2 linked regions of the Homo sapiens genome follow. The protein of the gene in region 1 purifies or fractionates together with the protein of each later gene. This does not show direct contact. Each region holds a gene or a part of one and is shown on either strand. Other genes may lie near its edges. The genes, in order: ATG2B and TKT.

What was found.
Region 2: the proteins of ATG2B (region 1) and TKT purify together in Homo sapiens (affinity purification with mass spectrometry; 2 studies listed by BioGRID and IntAct, with this or other methods). This does not show direct contact.

Annotation. Positions count from the first base shown.
Region 1 is NC_000014.9:96,323,836-96,334,051, reverse strand, and holds part of ATG2B (autophagy-related protein 2 homolog B), read left to right. Parts: intron 1-178; coding exon 179-364; intron 365-1,396; coding exon 1,397-1,551; intron 1,552-1,641; coding exon 1,642-1,747; intron 1,748-2,414; coding exon 2,415-2,676; intron 2,677-4,417; coding exon 4,418-4,568; intron 4,569-5,285; coding exon 5,286-5,378; intron 5,379-5,516; coding exon 5,517-5,705; intron 5,706-8,129; coding exon 8,130-8,403; intron 8,404-10,053; coding exon 10,054-10,156; intron 10,157-10,216. UniProt on the Homo sapiens protein: Lipid transfer protein required for both autophagosome formation and regulation of lipid droplet morphology and dispersion.
Region 2 is NC_000003.12:53,223,455-53,233,670, reverse strand, and holds the end of TKT (transketolase), read left to right. Parts: intron 1-396; coding exon 397-515; intron 516-2,120; coding exon 2,121-2,314; intron 2,315-3,049; coding exon 3,050-3,214; intron 3,215-4,234; coding exon 4,235-4,391; intron 4,392-4,533; coding exon 4,534-4,664; intron 4,665-5,311; coding exon 5,312-5,395; intron 5,396-5,521; coding exon 5,522-5,615; intron 5,616-6,792; coding exon 6,793-6,915; intron 6,916-7,739; coding exon 7,740-7,915; 3' UTR 7,916-8,959; downstream 8,960-10,216. UniProt on the Homo sapiens protein: Catalyzes the transfer of a two-carbon ketol group from a ketose donor to an aldose acceptor, via a covalent intermediate with the cofactor thiamine pyrophosphate.

The sequences.
Region 1 (10,216 bases):
TGGGATTCCTGGCTAGTTGCTTAAAGCTGTTGCTTAGAGCTCTGACTCACTAAATAGCAGTGGTTTTGCACTGTGGTGTTAAGTTGCCATTGTTGTTCCATAAATGGGTTTTGGGAAAGAAATGCTTAATTAACTCCAAATTTAATTACTGTTTTGGTTTCCTTTTGTATGCTTATAGAAAATTCTAGCAAAATAGGGTTAGCTAATAAAGATAGGAAAAATCGACCCATGCAGCAGGAAGACGAGTATCGAATTCAGATGGAATTAAACCGGTATTATTTGAGAAAAGATTCCCTCTCTGTGGGTGTATCTTCAGAGCAAAGCTTTTATGAGACAGAAACAGCTCGTACACCTTCTAGCCGTGGTAAGCAACTCAAACTGTTGACACCAGAATCATATATTATAATCATAGATAAAATTACACTTAATTTTGGCTGCTGTGAACAGAAGTTTAGGAATGAAAGAACAAAAAGATCCACATTGTAAGAAATCCACAACTTTTAATTTACGATTAATCTAATCACAACATTACAGTAATGCACCAGCACATAGGTGCTATAGTATATTTTTTTGATTTTGATTGTGTAGTTTTGTTTTCTAAATGATTTAGTCTAAGGAAAACCAATTTATAAAAATGTAAATTTATGTGAAAGTTAAATTAGGTAGTTATATATTTTGTCAAATTATTATGTGCTCATGTAATGATTTCTAGATTAAGAAACTACTGAACTACTAAAGTTTAATAAGGAAACTTTCCTTTATTGATCTTTCCATCAGTTATATGTAAATAATGATCTCTACCCAGCTTACTTTACATTTATAGGTGTTTCACAATGTATAAATGCTAATAACATAAATAATATGGATCAATTTAAGTATGGAATGTTGGACAAAATAAGAAATCAAACCCTACTCAAAAAATTTTGGCCATAATAAACTTCATTTGCATGAGAGTAAAACAATTCCGAAAGAAGGAACTGAAATGTAAATGGAATTCCAAATAATGTTTTTGGCTCTGAATAAAAGAAATAACTGTATCCAGATGAAACTAGAGGTTGCAATATATTTATACTATTTTAATATCTGATTTTAATTCCTAAACTGGCATATCACATTAAAAATATACCAGGTAATACTACATTTATATATTTAAAACAAAAGAAAACATGTTCATCAGTAGGGTAGCTTCATTTTTTATTAATTTATATTGAGTTTTTACTATGCCATTAATATTTTGGACTCATAAATTACACCACTGTAAGTAACATAAAATTTGGGGCATCGCTGTATCTCATATAATCTGAAGGAAGAGGATTGTATTAACGTATATTAACTTACTTAAAAGACTTGAATTGGTGGGATTATAATACAAGTGACATAGTTTAATTCTCTCTAGAAGAAGAAGTATTCTTCTCCATGGCTGATATGGACATGTCTCATAGTCTCTCTTCTCTTCCACCCCTTGGGGACCCCCCAAACATGGACCTTGAGTTATCATTAACTAGTACATATACAAATACCCCAGCAGGATCTCCATTAAGTGCTACTGTGGTAAAGTATTACTTAATTTTTCTTCTAGACTGAAAAGTTGCTTCTAAAATTCTACACTTCATTCATGTGCTTAAAAAAAATCTTTTATAGCTTCAGCCCACTTGGGGAGAGTTCCTTGATCATCATAAAGAACAGCCAGTAAGAGGGTCAACATTTCCATCCAACCTAGTTCACCCAACACCTTTACAGAAGACATGTAAGTAAAAATAAGACATTTGTTGTTAGTTTCCGCTGGAATTTTTAAAATGCCATTCTACTGGTGCTTTTCTTTCTTTTTTTTTTTTTTCTGGTCTTGGCCATTTACAAAGTTCAGAAAGCAAAATGAACCATTGTTAAACAATTCACTGTGAAGTGTTTTAGAATAGTTGCTCATTTATTGTATTCTTTGTGTATTTAAATACTTAAATATTTTTAGTTAAAAGTACACTGTAAGTTTCATATTATTATTGCAGTTCAGGACCCTCAGTCAATCATGTGATTTTTGTTTCACTATTTACATTTTCCTTGGAAGAGAACCTCAGGTTTCTTTTCTGCAAAATTTAATTGATATAGACCCAAGGCTTAAAGGAAAATTTGGTGAGCAGTTTTTGGTTAATCTTGAGTTTTCCAGTATGTTTTTATTAATATAAAAGCTTGGTTTGTACATTTACTGTTGTCACGTACTCTTGTACTTTAGTACAAAAATCTTGGATGTAAGATGCAGCAAGATAGCAGTTGATTTTACTTAAATTAATTGTTTAATATCATTCAAACTGTTGTATGATCATCTGTTTTTTAAAGCTAATAAATGAGTAAATGTTTTATAATTTTAATAGTTTTATGTGTCAAATTTTATGTATATAATTTTAATACTTGTATTTTAGCTCTCCCATCTAGATCTGTTTCAGTGGATGAATCAAGGCCTGAACTTATTTTTAGACTAGCTGTGGGAACTTTTTCAATCTCTGTGCTTCACATTGATCCTTTATCTCCACCTGAAACGTCACAGAACCTTAATCCATTGACACCTATGGCAGTAGCTTTCTTTACTTGTATAGAAAAGATTGATCCAGCAAGATTTTCAACAGAAGATTTTAAGTCTTTCCGAGCAGTGTTTGCAGAAGCTTGCTCACACGATCACCTTAGGTAAACTCTCACATATGTATTAATGATCCTTTAAACTTCCACATATGCTAATGATCCTTGAAAAAGAACCACATGTGGACTTTTGTATCTGCCTATCTGCATTTGTTTTTCTAATTCACATTTTATTTGTAAATGAATGGAATGAGTGAAGTTTTCTTGCAGTGCTGCAAAGGTGTTTAGAATCTTTCATTCAGGTTATTTGGCATGCAGAATAACAGATCTAGATAATAGGAGTTTTCAAAGTGATCTCTTTAGTTCCCTGCCCAGCTCTTGTCAAGTTTCTTTAACCACATTTTGCCTTCATCCCTATTGACACCACTGCAGTCGTGAAAACAGTTCTTATTGTCACTGGCATTAGCAGAGATGACAGTGGTGATGAAAAATAAAATAATACTATTGGAACTGATCCATATGCCACTGGCCATGGGGTGGGAAACATTACCAAGGCTGATCCTGAAACTTGGATGCTACGTTTCAACTTCTGCTTAAGAAAAATCAAAGCTATCCAAATAGCCAGTGAGTGATCCTTTCATGGGTTGAGTCTTAACAGATGAGGAGATAATTGAATTTGTAATATAGTTGGTTTTTTTGTTTTGTTTTGTTTTTTGTTTTGAGACAGAGTCTCACTCCATCGTCCAGGCTGGAGTGCAGTGGCGCAATCTTGGCTCACTGCAACCTCTGCCTCTCAGGTTCAAGCTATTCTGCAGCCTCAGCCTCCTGAGTAGCTGAGATTACAGGCATGTGCCACCATGCCCAGCTAGTTTTTGTATCTTTAGTAGAGATGGGGTTTCACCATGTTGGCCAGGCTGGTCTCGAACTCCTGCCCTCCAGTGATCCACCTGCCTCGGTCTCCCAAAGTGCTGGGATTACAGGCGTGAGCCACCACGCCCAGCCTTTAGTATTGTTAACATGCAAACTCTGTTTTACAATTTTAATGTGAAAGTGATCTATAAATTGTTGAATGACATCTTATACGGTGGTTTAAACATATCATATATTAGTATTTTTAGAAAATACTTTGGGCGTTTATTTAATCTTTTTAACTTTTTTAAAGTATGAAAATTGATATGAAAAGTAGTTTTACACCTAATACAAGAAAAACTCTACAGGTTAGGATTATAGTATTTATACTCAAACTGTAAAAACATTTTGTTTTCTTCCACCCCCCTTTTTTTTTCTTGTATTTTTAAGAGAGATGGGGTTTCACCATACTGGCCAGGCTGGTCTCGAAGTCCTGACCTCAGGTGATCCGCCCACCTTGTCCTCCTCAAGTGCTGGGATTACAGGCATGAGCCACTGTGCCTGGACTTTTTTTTTTTTTTTTCCCATTTTTGACAAAGTTTCAAACATCTGCCAGTAGGAAAATAGAACAAAAGCGGCAGAAAATATAGGTAGACCTCATTTGGGCTTCACCGACTAAAGTTTTTGAAATATTGCATAATGTTTTTAGATAATTTTAAGAGACTATTTCATATATTTTACAGATCTGAAAGATTTTGCCTTTGCAATGTAAATTTTTAAATGTGGAAGACGAAGGGCAGTGTTGGGAAATAAACAGATCCTGGAAAATTTCCCATCAACAGAACTGATTTTTTATCTTAAGGAAAGGGAAATTTGAAGCAATCTTTCTGGTTAATTTCCTTAGGAGTATTAATTATTGATAACTTGAACTTGTCAGACTAGGTGGATAATTGTTACATTTTAACACTAATAATCTTAAATGGTGCATTTTTTATAATAGATTTATAGGTACTGGCATTAAAGTATCCTATGAACAAAGACAAAGATCAGCTTCCCGATATTTTAGTACTGATATGTCCATTGGGCAAATGGAATTTTTGGAGTGCCTATTTCCAACTGATTTTCATTCTGTTCCTCCTCACTATACAGAGGTAAATATTGAATACTTTTTCTTTAAGATTATTTTTTAAATCTACCTTGCTTTTTAATGATTGTATGAGGCAATGATTTTCTTTAAAAATGTATAGAAAGCCATAGGAGGAATATTGTCATTTTCTTTTTGCACTTGTGTTCTATAGAAATATATTTAAGAATGTCACTCAACATCGTTATAAGGATCTGTTAGAATTTTAAATTAGAGTTGACTTGTTTAGGAGTGACAGGTGGGTTATGAGAGAAATGACTTCATTTCACTCATGTTCAAAGCACTCTTCATTTCAGAAGAATTTGATTATTGAACAAATAATTATCGAATGCCTGCTGTGTGCTAAGCATTGTTTAAGACAAGTTAAATGTCTTGTGTTCATTCACCATTTTTCTGATATTTTTCCTAATGTAAAAGTGTGACCTAAAGAAACTTTAGAAAACTGTCAAAGTTATGTTCATTGCTGTTACTTTGACCCTTTATAGTGTTTTATTTCAAAAACACTTTCTTGGAAATGAATTTATTTGAATCCTCGCCTACATTTTACAGATGAGATATCACATGAGTTAACTAACTTGTCTAAGGTTCACATTGCTAGTAAGTGACAAAAATGAAACTTAAAACCAGATTTCTGACTTCAGAAAGCCTTTCTCATTATTGTATGGGCACCTCTGTAAATTCTTGTGATTAATACATTTAATTTATCTTCATCTTTACTTTTAAGCTTTTAACGTTCCATTCCAAAGAAGAAACTGGTTCCCATTCCCCTGTGTGTCTTCAGCTTCATTATAAGCATTCTGAGAATAGAGGGCCCCAGGTAAGAGATCTTTTTCTATAATTGCCACCTGTAAATTTTAATCTGATATATATTTTGTCACAATTATAAGGTTTTAACCCAATTATATAGTAGTTTTTAGTGATTGTATTAATGCCTTTTCTTTTTTTTTTTTAAAAGGGTAATCAAGCAAGACTTAGTTCAGTTCCTCACAAGGCAGAATTGCAAATTAAATTAAATCCAGTGTGTTGTGAGCTGGATATCAGTATTGTGGACAGGTTAAATTCCTTGCTTCAACCACAGAAACTTGCCACAGTAGAGATGATGGCATCCCACATGTATACTTCATATAATAAACATATTAGTCTGGTAAGTATTCAAAAGCTGCAAATACTAATCATAATTATGGTTAGCTAATAGGGTTATTGAGATAATTTCTGAACTTAAGTATTTTTAATAGATTAAACAGTATAATTAAAATAGCATTATTTGTAATAATAAAAAAAGGAGACATCTTTTATGTCTTGATAGTAGACTAGCTAAATAAGTTTTTGAGACACACTGAATGAAATGTTATGTGGTCATTTAAAATGATGGTTATGGCCAGGCGTGGCGGCTCACACCTGTAATCCCAACACTTTAGGAGGCTGAGGTGGGAGGATCACTTGAGGCCAGTTCGAGACAAGCCTGGCCAACATGGCGAAACTCTGTCTCTACTAAAAATACAAAAATTAACTGGGCATGGTGGCACACACCTGTAATCTCAGCTACTCAGGAGGCTGAGGCATGAGAATAGCTTGAACCCAGGAGGCGGAGGTTGCAGTTAGATCGCATCACTGCACTTCAGCTTGGGTGACAGAGCGAGACTCTGTCTCAAGAAAAAGAAAAAGAAAATGATGGTTATGAAGATGGTATAACAACATGAAGAAGGCTCATCAAGGATTAAATGAAAAAGTAGAATATATTGCTTTACATAAACTTGTCACACCTGTGTAAATAAAATTGATGTATAGAAAAAGAATGGCGAGAAATATGCCAGTCAGTAGCATTGTTTATATTACAGTGGAATTAGGTTTCCTTTACTTTTCATGTCTATCAGAGTTTTTATAAGCTGTGATTATAACGACTTTATAAAATTTTATCTATTTATACATTTGATAAGTTACTTGAACTACCTAAAACATGAAGCCCAAACAATATGGGATATACTTTTGAAAATAATCTATTGAACATCACATTATATCACTTTTACTTGCATCTGGTGCCTGGGGTCTTTTCTAAGCAAATTAAATCAGTCAAGTTTGCAAGAAGTCTGTTAGGAATTTTGGGGCCAGAGGACCAGGATCAGATGGAGACAACCTTAGTTAAAAAGAAAAGGAAAAAGATATTTTATTTTTCTACTTCTTTGCTTTTCTCTTAGTATTGAGTATTCACATCAAATTAGCATTGTTTATTATTATTATTATTATTATTATTATTATTATTGAGACAGACATCTGTTGCCCAGACCGCAGTGCTGTCATACGGTATCAGCTCACTTCAGTCTTGACCCCCTTGGCTTAAGCGATCCTTCTACCTCAGCCCCCCAAATAGTTGGGGCTACATGCATGTGCCACCACACCCGGTTAAGTTTTTATATTTTGTCTCCCTATGTTTCCCAGGCTGGGCATTCTTTGTTATTGTTATCAATTGCTAGTTATTTTAGTTTCTGTGGGGTAGTCTGTATATTAGCTGTAACTATATATGCAATTGGATGATGGTTTAATCTGTTGGGTTATTTTTGCCTGAGAGTGGTGGTTAAATATTAGCAAATCAAATGGGGAGAGTTAGAATAGATTTGTTAAAAATCCAAGTCTGGATGGGTGTGGTGGCTTGCACCCATAGTCCCAGCAACTCAGGAGGCTGAAGCAGGAGGATTGCTTGAGCCCAGGAGTTTGAGACCAGCCTGGGTGATACAGCAAGACCTGTTTCGAAAAAAACAAACACAAAAATTGTAAGTCTAGCATATGCAGGGAGTTTTCAAATCATGGAGGTTAGAAATTGATTGAAGAAACTGAGGAGTGTTACAACGTAGAGTGGAATAAAGCTTTTTTAGTTTCAATATATTTTAGAGAAAAAATAGAAATAGATTTCTATTTGAATGGGATGTTCTTTGACCCTTTTATTGTAAGATGGCTTTGGGTAAAATGGTGCATATATCTTGGTCTCATAGAACCATTTGATGAGATCATACCCTTGGATTGGATAGGAGCTCAGAGTGCGTCATTTAGTGAATATTTATTTAGAACCTGTGATGTGCCAGCCTCTGGGTTTTATCTTAGAAGTACAAAGTTGAGTCAGCGATTGTATTTGGCATAATTCATCTGATTTCACATTGAGTATTTAAAATCATATATTGGTAGAAAAGTCTTTCAAACTGAATGTTGGACACTACAGTGATTTTTAACCGTATTGAATTTGTTGGTAGGCTAATTTACACCGTATTCTTTATAAATTTATAGTAAGATAAATATTAATATATAGTGCCTTTGTCTTCACTTTGGCTCAGTTTTTAATTTAATTTTTTATTTCAGAGTTTAACTTTTGCCAATAGTTTTCACTTTTGCTAATAGTTGTTGCATTATAAAATTTTTTTACACTAAATTAATATGGTAGTGGTTAATTTGAATTGACTTTTAATGCATTATACCAAATGGGGAGATAGTGATTATACATATTGTAATGTTGAATACTGTGTAATTTATGTTCATTTACTTTAATATTTTGGCATATTTTTGATGTTTTGTGTTTTAGCACAAGGCTTTCACTGAAGTGTTTCTAGATGATTCACATAGTCCTGCAAATTGTCGGATATCAGTACAAGTTGCCACACCAGCATTAAACCTTTCTGTTCGCTTCCCAATACCTGATCTTCGATCTGATCAAGAAAGAGGACCATGGTTTAAGAAGTCACTTCAGAAGGAGATCCTTTATTTAGCCTTCACAGATCTAGAATTTAAGACTGAATTTATAGGAGGATCAACCCCAGAACAAATTAAATTGGAACTTACCTTTAGAGAACTAATTGGTAAGATTGAATGTGCCTGTAAAAGAACCATCCTAGATAACAAACAACTGCTACTGAAACTTAACATCACAAAAGTATCTGACAGCCCTGCAATATAGTACAATTAAAGAACATTATGTTAAAATCAACAGCAACAATGTCTTTCTAGTATTGTATGCAAATATGTGATATAGGTAATTTTTTAAAAACTAAGGATGATGATTCATTCACTTTGTTAAAATTCCTGTTTACTGCAGGAGAGTGTAGTACTTTAGCCTACATTTTTATTACCACCTCTCGTTTATTTATTGTAGGACTGATAATAGAACTTGTTAAGTGCCACTGTATGTTAAATATTATGCTAAGCACTTGATACACATTTTCTTGTTTTTTTAGTCATCATAATCACCATATGTTTATTTTTCCAGTTATTTTTATAATTTAATAGATGAGACCATCTGTGGACCTAGAAGGAAGTATCTACCAAGATCATGTTGTAGTCAATGGCAGAATCAAGATTTGAACCCAAGTCTGACAGTGGAGCTTGAGCTTTCAACCATTACACTAACTAATCGCTAGTGACTTTTATTTGTAAAACTCGTTTTGATTTTTTCTGCATTACTTTGTTTTTGTCAGTTAATGAAGGGAATTTATAAAAACTTTAAAGTGAACCAAGTCTATGAAGACCTGGAAAACCTTTTATCCTGTGGTTCCTAGACCACCTGCCTCTGCCACGACACCCTCTCTCCGCAACCACACTCCCACCCCTCATGAGAATAGTTTGCAAAAGTTCCCCTTCTTTTCTCTCTCGGTTTTACGTATCTTAAGAGGTATTTAAAATTGATTGTTGTCAATTATGACTTCATGAAAGGGCCTTCAGGTGTTGTGAGATCATCCCTTATCTCCAGTGGTGAGAAACTCATTATTCTGGAGGAAAGCCATTTTTCATTTGTAAAATGGATTGAAAAAACACGTATAGAATTTTTGTTGTTGTTGTTTTTGTTTTTCAGACAGAGTCTTGCTTTGTTGCCCAGGCTGGAGTGCAGTGGCATGATCTTGGCTCACTGCAATCTTCATCTCCTGGCTTCAAGCGATTCTCGTGCCTCAGTTGGATGTCACCACACCCAGCTAATTTTTGTATTTTTTAGTAGAGACGGGTTTTTTCCATGTTGGAGAGGCTGGTCTCTTAACTCCTGACCTCAGGTGATCCGCCTGCCTCAGCCTCCCAAATGCTGGGATTACAGGTGTGAGTCACCGCGCCCAGCCCGTGTAGAATTATTTTGAACAGAGGTGTTTCTTACAGTGTTTGGTACAAAATACATATTTAAGAAATGTAGTTATTTTTCTAGTGGTAGATTATATAGACTTTATGAAGAAATAATCACTAATAGCACTTAGTAAGTGGTAAGTGCTTGCTCTATTTACTATGTCATTATGTACTTTATGCAGTGTACCTTGGTACTTAAGAATTTGAGTTTGAACACAAAACAGAATCTTTAATTTATTGGCTCATTCTGTCTACCACACGTGCACATGAAACCAGAACAACTGAAAAATGCTGTAGAACTTAAGGTTGCATTATGTTCCTGATTGAGAGGATCTTTGCTCCTCCATCTCTTCTTTTAGTACTTGAGAAGAAGCACATTTCAGTAAATCAGTCTTTTTTTTTAGGATCGTTCCAGGAAGAGAAAGGAGATCCATCTATTAAGTTTTTCCATGTGTCTAGTGGAGTAGATGGAGATACAACATCGTCAGATGACTTTGACTGGCCACGGTGAGTAAGCAAATGCATAGGTTTAATAGGATTTTCCTTTTAAAAATAAAATATTCTTTT
Region 2 (10,216 bases), on another chromosome or scaffold:
CCCAAATAAGAATTGGGCCAAAAAATTCATCAAGAATCTAATAGCAGACAGATTCCAAACCCAGTGCGCTGACCCCAGAACAGCTTTCAGTAGGAAATGAGCAGATCAGGAATGAAAGAGACAATAAAGGAACTGAGCTCTGGATTACTTAAGAGGAGGAGGAAAACCTGTTCAGAGGCAAACAAAAGGAAGTAAAATAATGTGAAAAAGAAAAGGATTTAAAAAACCCAAACTGGAAACAGGAATGTTGCAAGCTTTCTACTACTCCAGCTGAGGCCGCAGTTGTGGGGTGGAGCCTGGGCAGACCCCAGCTGCCAAGGCAGACCTTTCCCTGGAAGGCTCCTCGGTGTTGTGGCCCCTGGGAATTGCCCCTTACTCTCTGCCCCCTGTCCCCAGTTGGCATGCCATCATCGTGGATGGACACAGCGTGGAGGAGCTGTGCAAGGCCTTTGGCCAGGCCAAGCACCAGCCAACAGCCATCATTGCCAAGACCTTCAAGGGCCGAGGGATCACGGGTCAGTATGCACAAGCCGCCCTCCCCACCTTCACCCCTCGCCCAGACACTGTGGCTACGTAGCTCTGACCCGCACATCCAGGGAAACAGCCCTTGCTGCTCACTGAGCTCACCAGGCTCCAGGGAAGGGGAGCGGGAGATGCTGTGACTCAGTGACCCCTGTGGCTGAGCCAGGATTTAAACTCAGATCCGTCTGGCCTCTGCCGGTGGGGGCATGTACAGGCAGGAGGAGAGGAGGGACTTGGAGGGTCTGTGGGTGAGAGGAAGGTCGTGGAGTGAGGCAGCCCCCGTGCCCCACCCTGGCTGGTGCCTTTCAGAGCTGCAGCTGTGTGTGCTCTGCCAGCTCCGGCCACCTGCTCCAGCTGAAGGGCCGACACAGAGCCAGGCAGGGCCCGGAGAGAACTGTTCCCTCCAGGAGGTGAGTGGGGTACTCCTCAAGCAATGGCAGATGCTGAGCAAGGCCTGTGTGGGCCAAGAGCCTTGGGGGGTTTGGAACCTGGGTTCTGCCCCAGGCCGGAGAATGAGGCAGGCGTAAGTCACTCCCTGGCACCCAGGTGTGGGCTTCAGATTCCTAGGCCTGGGATGGCCTCACCCATTTTAAAGATGGGAAAATGAGACTACAAGTGGTCAGGGACTTGCCCGGGGACAGAGGAAGTCTATGGCACGAGGGGGGCTGATCCCAGGGCCTGGGTCGGCTTCCCTGCCAAATGCCCCTGGCTGCCCACCTGCCTGCTCTCAGGGGTTGTGGCTTGTTCTGCCCATGTAGACTCAGGTATATGAGGATGTTCTGAGTGGGGGTTTGGCAGTGCTGGGAGGTGTCTGGGAGGGGGTGGATGTCGAGGAAAGGGCTCTGGGATATTGTCATGGCTTTGGTGCTGCTGCCTGGCACTGCCCTCTGGTGTTAAAAATGGGCAGGATCTGGACCACTTGCAGCTTCTTGGGGGCTCCTGCTAGTCTTTCGGGCTGCTGGGTGCTACCTGGGAGTTCAGTCTGTTCTTGGCTCTGGCCAGACTCTAGTGACTACTGAGGTGACCTCCAGGGAGAGGGATATTCAGCCTTCCTGGCCGCACACAACAAGGTGCCATGGGGTGGGCATGCCTAGGTGCTTATAGACTCCTCTGCTGCTCACAGATGCATTGGGTGACCCTGGAAGCCCTGTTCTGGGCCTTGGGTTCCCCTTCTGATGGCCAGGGTCCCTTCCAACCCAGTCGACAAACTGAGTATTTCTGCAGCAGACACCTCTACCTGTGTGTGACCCTGCAGGCGGGGTTGTGGGGAGGAAGAGAATGGACACATTGGTGAAGGGATGGGGCAGTGGGCCCAGAAACACACACCTGCCCACGTCTGGCCCCTCCTTTCCCACTCAGCTGTGAGCTCCCAAAGGACCAGGCAGTAGACAGTGAGTGGTGGGCACGTAGGAGTCCATCCTATTCACTGCGACCCTCCTTTCCTGGCCCCCGTGCCTGGCTGGGCTCTGCCTGTCTGGGATGATGCCATTCCTCCCTTGCCCTCGGCAGGTAGAGGGCCAGTCTCCTGGAGCAGCCTCCTGGCCCTCTGGGAGCTTCTGTCTTACCCATTCCTCTGTCCTCCCGTGTTGGGTCTGCAGGGGTAGAAGATAAGGAGTCTTGGCATGGGAAGCCCCTCCCCAAAAACATGGCTGAGCAGATCATCCAGGAGATCTACAGCCAGATCCAGAGCAAAAAGAAGATCCTGGCAACCCCTCCACAGGAGGACGCACCCTCAGTGGACATTGCCAACATCCGCATGCCCAGCCTGCCCAGCTACAAAGTTGGGGACAAGGTACAAAGTGGGGCCTGTTTCTCTGAACCCATAGTTCTCAGGTTTCCCAAGTCTGTGGCCCAGATACACCCTCTGGAGGGCTGGGAAAGGGAGGAGAGCGATTCATTTAGGGCGAGGAGTGATCCCTGAGGTGTTGTTCCTGTCACTTCCCTCAGAATGACAGACATCTCTGGAGTTGACCTGCAGAGGCTCAGACCGGGCAAGGGAATTGCCCACTTAGCAAGCTTAGCAAGCTACTGACAGAACTGAGATCAAAGCCAAGGACTCACTCCCAAGTTCTTGCATCGCTGGTCCACGAGGGACCCTTGGCCTGAGCTCAGGACCCCCACCTGACCTGGGAAAGGCTAGGCAGAGCTGTCCCACTCCAGGTTTCTGTCCCAAGGGAACCCATCCATGCAGCCTGTGCCTGGCCTTGACTCCCAAGCCTTCTGTGTTCCCATGCAAAGTGGAATAGGTTCATGGACCTGGTGCAGCAGGCGGGAAGTTGGGGCTGGTGGGTGTCTTCTGTAGCTTATACCTTTCACAGCCAGAAGGGGCCGGGGCTCCAGGGGCTCCCAAGACATTGACCGTAGTCGTTGGCAACCTTTCAGCAGTTAAAAGCCTCTGCAGGACCTTGTGCTCCAGGGCTTCCATTTTTGGCCCCGTTTTAATCCTTCTCTGAAAGCAGGGCTCCAGGCTGCAGGTGTGCACTCACCCTCAGAGGGGTCCAGAGCCTTCCCACTCTCTTCCTCACAGATAGCCACCCGCAAGGCCTACGGGCAGGCACTGGCCAAGCTGGGCCATGCCAGTGACCGCATCATCGCCCTGGATGGGGACACCAAAAATTCCACCTTCTCGGAGATCTTCAAAAAGGAGCACCCGGACCGCTTCATCGAGTGCTACATTGCTGAGCAGAACATGGTAGGTGCTGGGGCCGGCAGGGACAGGTCCACCCAAGGCTGAGGGCTGTGGTCTGAGGGGTGCGGGGCAGCCATGTTGGCAGAGCCAGGTGCCTGCTGTAGGCCAGCCCAGGGAGACTATAAGAAAAGCCAGGACCCAGCGTTAACCCCTGACCTTGAACAGCCACAGTTTGGGAGGTTCTGCCCAGGTGCAAATGTCCTGGACAGGTGTGCACATGGGGGAGCCGAATGGGACTGCAGGTGCTCTCAGGAGGAGCTGCGTACAGGCCAGGCCTGGTGGTGAATGGGGTCTCTTCCAGGTGGAGGACAGGCCTGGCCAGTAGGTGGGGCCGTGATGGGTTTAGCAGCCCGAGTCTGTAGAGCACCTGTAATGCACACGGCTCTGGGCCCTGCCACCCTGAGGGATGCAGAGATGAGGGAACTCTGGGCCCCTGACATGTACCCATTTGGGGAAGCAGACCCTTGTCAGGAACTGAGGTTGTGAAGTAAGGAACAATGTTTTGTCCATGTTTTCAAAATATCCCCTCCTGGTGGTCCAGGAGCCCAGCCTGGCTTGCAGGCCCCTAGGGACAGGGAGCTTCCTCTCTCTGGAGGGCACTCAGATCTCCAGAGTTCTTCCAACTGGACCTGAAATTCTCTCTGTGGTTTCCAGAGACTGCTCTGCAGGGCGTGGGGCTGGGGAGGTCCCAGGTACTAGGGAAAGAGGCCTTGTGTTGGCTGGCAGATTTTGGAGCCTTGAAGGGCAGCTGGTTTGGAACTGATGACTGTACTCAGTGCTGCTTCTGGATGAGTGATTTGGGGCCTGGAGCCTCAGCAGGCATGAGGCTGCTGCCCTCGGACCCCAGGGAGGGGTTGGGAGGACCGGTCTCTGCAGAAGAAGGTGGTGGGGGACATATTCAGAAGCCCAGAAAGGATGGACAATCTATATACAAATTGTGGCTTTCTCCACAAAAGGGGTCCTAGGCTCCCCGACCACCCTCTGCCTGCCCCTTTGGGCTGACCCTGTCCCACCTGCCCCCAGGTGAGCATCGCGGTGGGCTGTGCCACCCGCAACAGGACGGTGCCCTTCTGCAGCACTTTTGCAGCCTTCTTCACGCGGGCCTTTGACCAGATTCGCATGGCCGCCATCTCCGAGAGCAACATCAACCTCTGCGGCTCCCACTGCGGCGTTTCCATCGGTGAGTTTAGCCAGGGTGTTTACACCTGGAGCTCCCTTGACTTTTGCACCAGGAGGTATGGGAGGGGGATGGGCCAGGATTCCAGCCCATGGATGGGGGGGTAGGGGTCTTATTTCTGCATATCCTTTCCCCCACACCCCAGGGGAAGACGGGCCCTCCCAGATGGCCCTAGAAGATCTGGCTATGTTTCGGTCAGTCCCCACATCAACTGTCTTTTACCCAAGTGATGGCGTTGCTACAGAGAAGGCAGTGGAACTAGCCGCCAATACAAAGGTAGGTTGCATGGCTGTTCTTTCTCCTGCTGGCAGCCATCACTTCCCAAGGGAAACAGAAGAGGAGGCCAGAGCTGGTCACTTGCTGCCCCAGGGGGTGTTTCCTGACCTTGCCCCTGGTGTTCGTGTAGCTTGTGGAAGTTAGACAAGAAAAAACGAAATACACACCCCACTTACTGCCACGTGGCAGACATTGTCAACTGATTGCCAGTCTGTCTCTGCTGAGAATCCTGGCAGCCCTGGCCGGTCCAGCGGTTGACACCTCTCCACCCTCCTGAGTTGGGTTCTCCAAGACAGGCAAGGATGAGCTGAGCCCTGTGGTCCAGGCCCGGAGCTGCATGCCACAGACCCAGTGCGCGTGGTTCCTGCCCCTCTGCCTGGTGCAGTCTGTGGGAGTAGCCCACCTGCAGCCAGTCTACCTGGTGGAAAGTTGCCTTCGGTCTGAGGCTGCAAGGTGGTGGGCAGTTCTCAGAGTGTTCAAGTGGGGTGCGGGCGGCAGAGGGCAAGCAAGGCCCTTTTCCCTGCTGGAGTAGCCAGGATGCAGTAACTAACGCTCCCATGGGAAGGGATGGCCTCTCTAGAAAGACCTCGTCTCTGAGGTTGGGTGTGCCACATCCTGTATCCTCAGTTTATCTGTTTCGGTCTCAGGGTATCTGCTTCATCCGGACCAGCCGCCCAGAAAATGCCATCATCTATAACAACAATGAGGACTTCCAGGTCGGACAAGCCAAGGTCAGTGCCTCGCATGCCCCAGGAGCCCACAGAGCTGCCTGGACCCTCCCTGCTGTGACTCCCAGCAGTCAGGGCACACCCTGCCCCAGGGCCCTGAGCCTTACTCACCCTCTGTGTCACCCCCAGGTGGTCCTGAAGAGCAAGGATGACCAGGTGACCGTTATCGGGGCTGGGGTGACCCTGCACGAGGCCTTGGCCGCTGCCGAACTGCTGAAGAAAGGTGAGGAGAAGGGGCCTCCAAAGTCATCAACTGAGCGGCCACTGCATGCTAGGTCTTGGGGTTCTTTCTTTCGTTCTTTCTGTTCTTTCTTGAAGAGCTCACAGCTAGAGAGAAAGCATTTCATTTCATTAAATAATGATAGCAATTATAGCCATCCTTTGAGCACTTGTTCTGTCTGGCATGTTGCTAAGTCCTGGGGCTGCAGTGCCCACAGTCCCTACCCTATGACTCTAAAGTCGAGACCCCCCCAGCATGGTGGCCAGATCAGTGGCCTGGAGCCTGCCAGCTGGGCTGGAATCACTCAGCCAGGCACTAGTTAAGGAAGTAAGTTATTCACTGTCACCATGCCTGTTTTCCTATCTGTAAAATGGAGATACTAGCCCCTTGCCCTCAGAGCTCTCCTGAGGGTTACATGCATGTGACTTGGTATTCTATTATTATTACTGCGAGCTCACAGTGTTGGCTAGTGGTTTGTAGGGGAGACAGGCATTGGCCTCTCCTGCAATAGAATCACACAGCAGATGTCATGTTTTAGCACGAAAGAGGGGGCAGGTGTGGCATCTTCCAGAAAGTGGCTTCAGAGTGGGTAGGAATTGATTAGCAGAGAGGAGAGTGAAGGGAGGCCGGAGGAGGGTCAGGCAGGAGCAAGATGGGGCTGGAGGAGCCAGAGGAGTCCATCCCCAGGCAGGGGGAGACCCAGGGGGGTGAGCTTTAAGCAGGGCCTGGCAAGCGTGGGTTTGTCCTTCTGAGAAGGTGCCTCTGCTGCTGGGGCCGCACGTGGGCCTCTGATCACTCTGCGGGCTGCAGCTCCCCAACGTCACCACATCAAGCCTCACCTTCCATCAGGCCAGACACCTGGGGTGTTTTCTCTCGCATTCCCTTTGTCTTCAAGGTTGTGGGAGGATGAGGGAAGGCGCTCAGGGCCTGCACGCTCCGCTCTGGGTTCTTGGATACTGCGGGCAACACAGCTGGACCAGATGCCCCAGTGCAAGGGGTTGGCAAGCATGAGCTCAGCCATGGGAACGAGGTGGCAAGTGGTTCTCCCTGGGACAGGGACAGGCCCGCAGGCTGAGCTCTTAGCTACACGCAGCCCTCAGGATGTCCCACCAGGCCCCCACCAGGGCAGATAGTGGTGCCCAGCCCTCCCCTCAGCCACGCCGTGTGCTCTCCCTCACAGAAAAGATCAACATCCGCGTGCTGGACCCCTTCACCATCAAGCCCCTGGACAGAAAACTCATTCTCGACAGCGCTCGTGCCACCAAGGGCAGGATCCTCACCGTGGAGGACCATTATTATGAAGGTAAGGAGGCCTGGGGCAGGCAGGCTGGGCAAGGGACAGGGCCAGAGAGCCGAGCGTTGGACGTGCCTCTTCTATCTGAGCCCCAGGAGGGCAGCTGTGGCCCAGAACACCCAGAGCTGTCCCTCAGAGCAGCTGGGACGTGGTCTCTTAAAAGGCCTCAGGCTTGGCCTGGGGACCTAGCTAACTCACAGCTGCTGATGAGCTCTGTGGAGCTCCTGCTGCCCAGGAAGCTGGTGAGGATTCCAACCTCGCTGCTAAATGGTGGATGGTGGCGTCCCTGAGGTAGTGTAGGGTGGAAGCTATGGTGCAGCTTGGGAAGCAATGCAGAATTTCTGGTATTTGTGAGTCCTTCACACAGCAGGCTCCCTAAGTACACACCAGCCTCTCTAAGTAGGAGGCCCCAGTGGGAGAGATGGGCTTTGACTCTGGGGTCAAATGTAGATAATTGGACTATGGACAGTGGCTGGCTGGTCACCAACAATGGTGTTTGAAACAAACATTTAGAGGCCATATTTGGGCTTATAAAAATAGTTCTGGGCCGTGCATGGTGGCTCACACCTGCAATCCCAGCACTTTGGGAGGCTGAGGACAGCGGATTTCTTGAGCTCAGGAGTTGGGAGACCAGCCTGGGCAACATGGTGATACCTGTCTGTCTCTTTAAAATAAAAAAAATCAATGAGTTATGTGATGGGCTCATGGCTACAGGTGGAGAAAGGCAGTGCATATGCAGCCTCCTCCATCCTTGACTAAGGCTGACAGAGGGCTGGGCCCACCACTGCTCACCCTGAGGCCTCGTCTTCTGACTCCCCTCCTTTCATTTCTAGGTGGCATTGGTGAGGCTGTGTCCAGTGCAGTAGTGGGCGAGCCTGGCATCACTGTCACCCACCTGGCAGTTAACCGGGTACCAAGAAGTGGGAAGCCGGCTGAGCTGCTGAAGATGTTTGGTATCGACAGGGATGCCATTGCACAAGCTGTGAGGGGCCTCATCACCAAGGCCTAGGGCGGGTATGAAGTGTGGGGCGGGGGTCTATACATTCCTGAGATTCTGGGAAAGGTGCTCAAAGATGTACTGAGAGGAGGGGTAAATATATGTTTTGAGAAAAATGAATTGGCCCTGAAATGTTTTCTTTTTTGATGTGTTTGCAGCCAGTGCAGGTTCTGGGGAAGAAGCGTGGAGGGTGCGCTAGGGAGGCTGGTGTCCTTGGTCCTGGGCCAGGACCTGGGTGTCCCAAGTCCCCTTGGAATCACCTGCAACTGCCCTCAACCTCCAGAACTATCGCTGCCTCCCATTCATCACCAGGTGACATTTGACTGCAACCTGCCTTCTAGCTGAGAGGCTGAGACCTACATCCCTCATTGTGACCTCAGTCCACCTGGCCCTGAGCGGGCTGGGGAACTGCCTCAGTCTGGAAGCTGACCAGGCACTCTCAGGGCCGCCCCACCTCCCCCAAGTCCCCACAGCCTTGCAGTCAGGTCTCCTGGGATAGGGAGGTTCACTTGCTTGTTGTCCCTCGTCCTTGTCATATCCTTTTAACTAGGCATCTCAGAGAAGCAGAGACAGGGCAGCCTTCGTCCTGGGGGAAAAGGGACCCTCAGGATGGCATGAGAGGTCCTCAATCCCAAGTGTGGAACTGTCCCCCTCAACTTGTTAAAATGCAGATTTCTGGGTCTTGCCAATGGGGCCTGGGACTCCATGTGACAACTGGCCCAGGAGCTTCTGATGTCACACAGAATTCTGCAGTCCCAAGCTCCAGCCCCGACCTGCTCTGCTGTTCCTAGGTGACTGCCCTCACACTGCTGACCACAGTGGATTTCTCCCCCTGCTGCTCGGGCTCAGCTGGGGTCAGCCCTGCTTATAAGGTCAACTGTGCAAAACCTTATACTGGCCAAGAACAAACTAGTGCTGGGGGAGGAGGGCTGGGTGCCCCGGCCACTGGTGGAGTCCCCAGGAAATCCTCAGAGCTGTTGCGAGGATGAGACACATTTGTGGACACGTCCACCTGTCCTCCTGACCGTCTGGAGAGAATAAACCTGTCAAAGCCAAGGTCAGGCAATTGCCCCCCACTTAGCTACCCAGCCAGGTCTAGCAGTGCCAGAGGCTGTGCCTGTGTTTGCCTCAACACCAATTCCAGAGGGACCAGGCATGGGGTGATGTGGTTTGGTCCCAGGGGGGTGCCCTGGGCTGATGCCTGTTCACCAGTGTGTTGAGGGCAGACCTGGGATTGGAACCTGGGTCTCTGTGAGTCTAGAGATCCCACCTTCTGTACCCTACTGCCCCTAGGGCCCTCAAAAGAGGAATCATGCAGTAGGCTCCCAGGAGGGCCCTGGTCCCATAGGATGATGGGAACAGCCTGGGGCTCAGGTCCTGTGCGTCTCCAGAGCCCACAGGCCCCTGCAGAGAATCTAGAGGCAAATACTGGGACAAGGACACCTGAGCCATAGGCACAGGCCCAGCCAGCAGCCTGGTGAGCCCATCTACACTGGCTAGCCATGCCCCAAGGACCTGGGAGGCCTGGCTAACCCAAAGTAGAGGGACAGGAGGGGCAGCTGCCCTCACCTCCAGCCTGCCTGGCCTCTCCCAGGCCCACACAGCTTGTGAAGAAGAAGACGAGAGCCTGGGCAGCAGGCGCCGGGGCCTGGGCAGGATGAGGGAGGAGAGTCAAGAACCCTGACCCAGTCACCCAGACCCAGTCCGGGGACATCAAGGCTACAGGAAGCTGGGACATTCAGGAATCCCAGAGCTGAAAAACTCTGCCTCCTTTTTGGCGAGAAGACTTAGAGTATAATGTGCTTAGTGTAGGGCGTGCTTGGTGCGGAGTGTGCTGGAGGCCATCACTGGGTCCTCATGGGAGCCTGACGAACTTGTCATTTCTCCCTCAGCCCCTGCTCAGGAAATACGGGAAGCCAAGACAGTGCCTGAGGCCTGACTGGAGGCTGGTGTGGCCTGACCTGTCAGCTAGCAAGGCCTGGCGGTGCCTCATGGCATAGACAGCTGAGCAGGAGGGCAGCATGGCCCCCCAGCAGCCTAGGACAAACTTTCCTGGCACCAGGGAAAGCCCCTCCCACCCCTGCTGGTAAAGGGGATGCTGAGGCTACAATCCACACAGCCAGGAGCCGGGATGCAGCTGCAAGGAGGGCGTGCTGGTGACCCCTCACGTCCCTACCCACTTGGGCAAAGGCTGTGGCAGCTGAGCCTGATAGGGGCGGGCAGGGCTGGGGGCAAACTCCCCAGACCAAAACCACCCCCACCACCCTCTGCTCAGTACATGGGGCAGTCCTCTCCCCAAGCCTCAGTTTCCTC